Linked DNA regions of Homo sapiens: region 2 is linked to region 1. The links come from fine-mapping of genetic effects on gene expression. A gene starts in region 1. The other region holds a variant in brackets. All regions are shown on one strand. Distances are from middle to middle. Region 1 holds the start of PACC1 (proton activated chloride channel 1). Region 2 overlaps LINC01740 (long intergenic non-protein coding RNA 1740).

Region 1 (2,912 bases):
TAAGGAATTTAATTAGTGGTCTGCTATTGTTAATTTGTTTTGGTAAGCAACTGTTAAATGAAATGGCTGGAATCAGTGTTCCATTCATAAATTTAACAAACATTTGTCGAGTGCCTACAATGTGTTAGGCACTATATATATTGTCCCATATAACAGATTTAAGAGCAGAGGGCCTAGGATAGGGGTGAGTGGTCAGGAGAGGTGATGGGGACCTCCCATTGCTAATGCTCCAGGAGGTCCAGGGTTCTTTGATGTGGCTGGCACTATTCTGCTTATCACTGAGGAGAGAAGAGGCTCCCAGTGGCCTGAGTGGAGGGGTTACCAAGCTGCAGCTGCAAGGGACACAGAGCAGCATTCACCAAGGCACAACAAGCAGCCTCTATCTGCTTCACCACTGAGGAGCCGAGGGCCCTCACACAACAGCTGTTTCAGGCAGTGGGAGGAGAGGAAGATGTGGTCTTCAGGTCCACCCTGCCACAGGGCCAACACCAGATTTGACGCCACATCTAGCGCTTGAGGCTTCTTCTGTGGCTGAACAGCGGCTTTAGGCTTTCTCTGCACGATCCTTCCTTTCTGCTTTCATAGGCCTTGTCAGGCAGGGCAGGGTTTAGCAGTTGCATTCTAAGGCGAGGAGAGGAGGGCTCAGAGCATTGCAAGACCTAAAGGGGAGGGTCAGAGCCAGGACAAGAACCTAGGGGTACTCCTGCCCCTGGAATAATGGAGAGAACATGGGCTCCGCAGTCTACCCCTGGATGAAATAATCTTCATTTGATTACCGCTCCACCCGCATCCTTTCTGAAACAAAGTACCTCAGTTTCCTCATTTGTAAATTAGGGAGAAAAATGTCCTTCTTACAGGGTTCCTTGCAGAATCAACGGCATAATGTGAGTGAGAGCGCTTTGTAACTAACATACAAAGTGCTCTCCAGACATTTATTACCGTTTTAAACCGCCAGGCCAAGCTTCCTCTTGCAATTATAGATTAGGGGCTCCTACTCATCTGACTTTGTTCCACTTTCCACTCCTCTTCTCCGTCCCTCCCCCTCCAACAAAGAGAGGAAGTGAGAGACGCAGAGGCACGCGTCTAAGGACCAGCTTAGCTGGCCCAGGGTCACATGCAGGCCTCCGCCACAGGGGTGAGAGCTGGTGTGAGGGGCGCCCCCGCCCAGAACTACATTTCCCATCAACACTTTCGCGACTCCTGGGCGGCAGCGGCCAGGCGCATGCGCCGAGTATCGCCACGCCTGGTCTCTGGGACGCCCCTCCGGACCGGTTTCGCCTCGCGGAGCCGGTAGGTCCAGGTGCAGCGGCCGCAGTGCTGCGTCCGTGCGCCGCGGGCTGGGGCGGTCTCAGGTGTGCCGAAGCTCTGGTCAGTGCCATGATCCGGCAGGAGCGCTCCACATCCTACCAGGAGGTACGAGGTTGTGAGAGACGGAAGGGAAGTTTGAGGCGGAGGAGCAGGGTCCCGGGGGCCTGGGCGGATGCGGGGCGGGGGGTGTCGGGGCTGCGCGGCAGAGGGCTCTTCCGAGGGACCGACGGGTGCGTCAGGGGAGGGCTCCCGGGGTGCAGAGGAGCGGCCCAGGGGCAGGAAGGAAGCGGGGCAGCGGAGCGGGCGCCCAGCGTTCTCCGTATGCTGCGGGTTGCATGGCCGAGGTCCGGAGTAGGGTCCCCGGCGCCGCGACCCGTAACCAGCAGGTGAATGATTGAAGCTACCTGAGGCCCAGCCTTCCGCGCTCCCCGCCGGAGCGGCAGCCCAATGGCCCAGAGGAACCCGGCGTTCTTTGCAACAAGTGGAGCGCCCGCGCCCTCCTCCCGGCGAGATCTGATGCGCGGTCGGCATCGTCGGCATCCTCCCCCTCCAAGCCCAAGGCCTCGCTGTCCCCGCGGCTGGTGACAGGATTGATTACCTGTTTTTTGGTGACCACCTAACTTTGAAAAAGTGCCTTCATGGACTCTGCTAGTTCTCGCTCCTCTTCGTCTCTCCCTCCAGTCTCACCTCCTCCCACGACTTTATCACTTTCCAGTTCTTTGTCTCTTCTCTGTCCTGCGCTGCAGGCTGTGCGTCCAGCGCTTCCTTCAAGCAAGCCCTGCCTCCTCACTTCTCCAGCTGTATTAGTGAAACTGCTCTCCTCCTCCGCCTCCACTTCTCGGCCCCCAAACCTTGGTCATCTTTGGCAACCGTCCTCTTCTGTGCCCCTCCATCGTGCCGCCTCATTGGCCAAAGTCAGGCAGTTCCAGGTCGGTCCTCCTCCAGTTTGTGTCCCTGTGTTTGCTGTAACCTCTGAGTGCGATACTGTGTTACCATCGCTCCCTTTAGTCTCTTATACTCTCCAGATTTGCCTTGAGGCCCTGCCTTCACCTCGGAGCATTCCTTTTTTCTCAGACCTGACGCTGCCCTTCGTCTGCCCAGAACAGTCCAGACTTCTCAGCAGGCTCCCAAAGCTCTGAACAGCACAGCAGCCATGTCTCCCATTACCTTTGCCACCTCCTAACCCACCTAGGGTCTGGCACAGTGGAAACTCAGTTTTAAAATGTGCTCCTGCCTCTGTGCGTGTGCTCACTCCATTCCTTCATCAACGCTCCGCCAAGCTCCATTGGGTAAAATGCCCCCAGAAGTCAAGGGCTACCTCAAGTTCCATGTGTTCCATAGGGGTCCGCTTTCCAGACCCGTCTGCATTTCTGTCTGTCCTTCTCATAATGAACTTGCTGCCTTCTGTCTTAGTCAATAGTTACTGCTGTACATATCTCCCTTTGTAAAAGACTGATTCACAGAAGGGCTTTGTGGACTATATAAAGCAGGTGGCTTAGCCCTACAGTGGAGGGAGAAGCCAACTTGAAGGCAGATGAGATTTGCCTAAGGCTTGCCATTTTTTAGTGTAGGATCTTGGCTGGAATCTGGCCTTGGACAGATTT
Region 2 (2,912 bases), 140 kb before region 1:
TGAAGCTAGCTGGTATTAAATAATTCTTTGTTTTTAACTATTAAATACAGGGCTTTGGGTATGTAATATAAGCAGCATTATGGTAATATTCTGGAAGTTTCAATTATTGCAATGATTGAGAGCATTAGAGTGTTATTTTCTGTTTGAGATATTTTTTAAGATAGTGTTGCTTCAGGAACATTGTAGTCATAATATTTTGCAGTCTAAATCCTTATTTTAAAAAATCTCATAACTTTTTATATCCTATTTAAAAGTATTGATATTGATATATTGGATTGGATTATTAGCTTTATAAATAAATACAATCACTGGACCTCTGTCAGTCCCAAAAACAAAACTTGTTTTGCACCTAAATTGTTTATTTTATTTTATTTTATTTTTAGCTGAGTAGTTAAGATTTCAGGCCTTTTTAAAAAGTCATGTGTTTAGGTATAATTTACATGCAGTAAAATTCACCCTTTTAGGTATAAAGTTCTGGAATTTTGACAAACATAGTCATGTAATCATTACCACAATCAAGACAAAACATTTCCATCACCCCAGGAAGTTCCCTTGTGCTCCTTTGCAGTCAATCCCATTCCTGAAAATAAAATTTTAAATAAAATTAATAAAACTTTCTAAAAACATGTCTGATTCATGCCACTGTCTGTCACCATCATAAATGGACTTACTTGGTCTCAATATGGAATTCACAAGTTATCACATCAGTCGAATAATTATGTTCTTGCTGATTTAGTCAAAGTGAGATCATTCAGTGCTCAATGGATGGCTGCATACTAACATTTAAGACTTGAGAGGATACAGCACAGCAGGGGACTATCATGATGACTGTTAGATAGGATTTGGTATTTAGGATAACACCAAAAAATGAAGCGTATTCCTTAACAGGAGCCCTGAGGGACCAAATTGATCCAAATCAAACAAGTCAAAGCTTAGGTAAGTAATATAGGCAGCTTAACAGTATTTGAGTCCATTTGGCCATAATCCTTATTCAAAGTGTGATGGAAATTAAGGACCACAGCTTGCTATAGAATGATCTGATTTAAATAAGTATCCAATTTTGTCATTAACTTGATAACACAAGCCTTAGTAACCTGGAGACCCACTAGAAGAACATAGATTAGAAAACCCTGGAAAAGCCAAGCTTGCCATCCACCACTCAGGATTCCTGCAAACCAACTGTTAGCTGCTGCCATGGACACAGCATGTGTTCCTTTCCCTTAAGAAATTTCCTTCATGTATTTGATGGCAGTGTCTAAAGAAACAGCAGTTTCACCTTTGTTTTTAGTTAAGCTTCCTCTAGTAACAAAATTAGGGGACAGACAGGCACAATATTCAGTTTTGTCAATACTATATACAAGCCTCCAATTTGGGCGAAAAGAAGCTCTAAGTCCACATGATGTTCCAGTAAATGTTTTTTCTTAAAACATATGCTGTCTGGGCGCAGTGGCTCATGCCTGTAATCCCAGCATTTTGGGAGGCCAAGGCGGGTGGATCACGAGGTCAGGACTTCAAGACCAGCCTGGCCGAAATGATGAAACCCC[G/A]TCTCTACTAAAAATACAAAAATTAGCCGGGCGTGATGGCACGCGCCTGTAATCCCAGCTAGTCGGGAGGCTGAGGCAGAGAATTGCTTAAACCCAGGAGGCAGAGGTTGCAGTGAGCCGAGATTGCCCCACTGTACTCCAGCCTGGGTGACTCCATCTCAGAAAAAAAAAAAAAAAGTATATATGCCATCATCCACCTTTCTCAAAGGATGACTTCTGCCCGTTTGAACCTCTGGGAGTTCTGGTTAGCCACAAAGTCCAGGATTTTTCCCCAATTTATGGATTGGTTTCAAATTCCATATGACTGATACACTACTACTGCCAAGAGTGAGCCCTCAAGAACCCCATTGGAATCATTCCTCAGTGGAAACTAGCTTATCTTCATAAGCCTAACAGTTGCTCTGGTTTTTTGCTAGAGCATAAGCCTTACCTAAAGCCATCCATAGATTATGGTTCCATGGATTTTCCTGCAAGGAAAAGGAAGTAATTAGGACATAAGGAAACAGGGGAGAAAGAAAAAAGATAGACCACAGTAAACAATTGCCAGCTGAGAATAACAAGACTTCAAATGTTCATAGTTAAAGATCTGATGAGAGTTCATTACGATGATAACACAATTGAGAAGGGAATTTGGTTATTTCTGTTGCATGCAACATTTTAAGATAGTAACCAGAATTATGACTGATAATGTTATTCCAGAACTATCAAATTTCTATGAATTTCACACAATTTCTGAAATATGTTAATAACACATTCATACAAATATAATCCAAAGAAGGTTTAGCCTTACTTCTTATTTGGCAATGCTTCCCGTATAATTTAATATACCAAGTAAGCCCAATTAGCTTAATATTTCTCTTTTCATAAGGAGAAAATCAACTTACAAAAGGCAGATTAATGGGAGAAAAAGCATACAAACTTATTAGCATGCATAGGGGAACTATCATAGAGTGATTACGCCACCATGCAATGGGACACAGATGCTTGTATATACCCTTCTTCTTAGGAGAAAGGGAGATGGGGAAGTGTGGATGATTTTAGGGTAGTAGTAAATGAATTTTGGGGAATTCAGTAGGCGTGAGGAACATACAATGGCCTGAGACAAAGTCTGTTGGGCCCGCAGAGCAGACAATGGTTTGTGACAAAAGTCTGTCCAAATTTGTTGACAAACTTCAGTTTTTCTTCCTGTGATATGAGTTCAGTTACTGAAAACTCAGGGAAGGGACCACAGGTAATTGTTTTCTTCTTTGGTGGACCCAAACTTTAGGCAGATCAGGGAACTTCAGAGAACAGATTGGCCTTGTGCTCTGGGAGAGAGTGCGGAGAGGGGTGGGGCATGCCAGAGAGACCTTGAGAGGCTTCATCTGA

Evidence for each region. PIP is the estimated chance that this variant, and not a neighbour inherited with it, causes the effect.
Region 2: its variant is the best candidate, but not a certain one, in a credible set for the expression of PACC1 in whole blood (INTERVAL, PIP 0.72).

The regions. Positions count from the first base shown.
Region 1 is chr1:212,413,223-212,416,134 of GRCh38, reverse strand. It overlaps PACC1 (proton activated chloride channel 1), which reads left to right and starts at 1,249. Exons shown (of 8, transcript NM_018252.3): 1 at 1,249-1,413. The coding sequence starts at 1,378. RefSeq lists a silencer at 1,538-1,597.
Region 2 is chr1:212,553,511-212,556,422 of GRCh38, reverse strand. It overlaps LINC01740 (long intergenic non-protein coding RNA 1740), which reads right to left. Exons shown (of 3, transcript NR_125985.1): 2 at 1,975-2,011; 3 at 357-580. Among named protein-coding and RNA genes, the nearest start is that of LINC01740, 9.3 kb to the right of the region's middle. The variant G/A (reference allele first, on the strand shown) is at 1,545.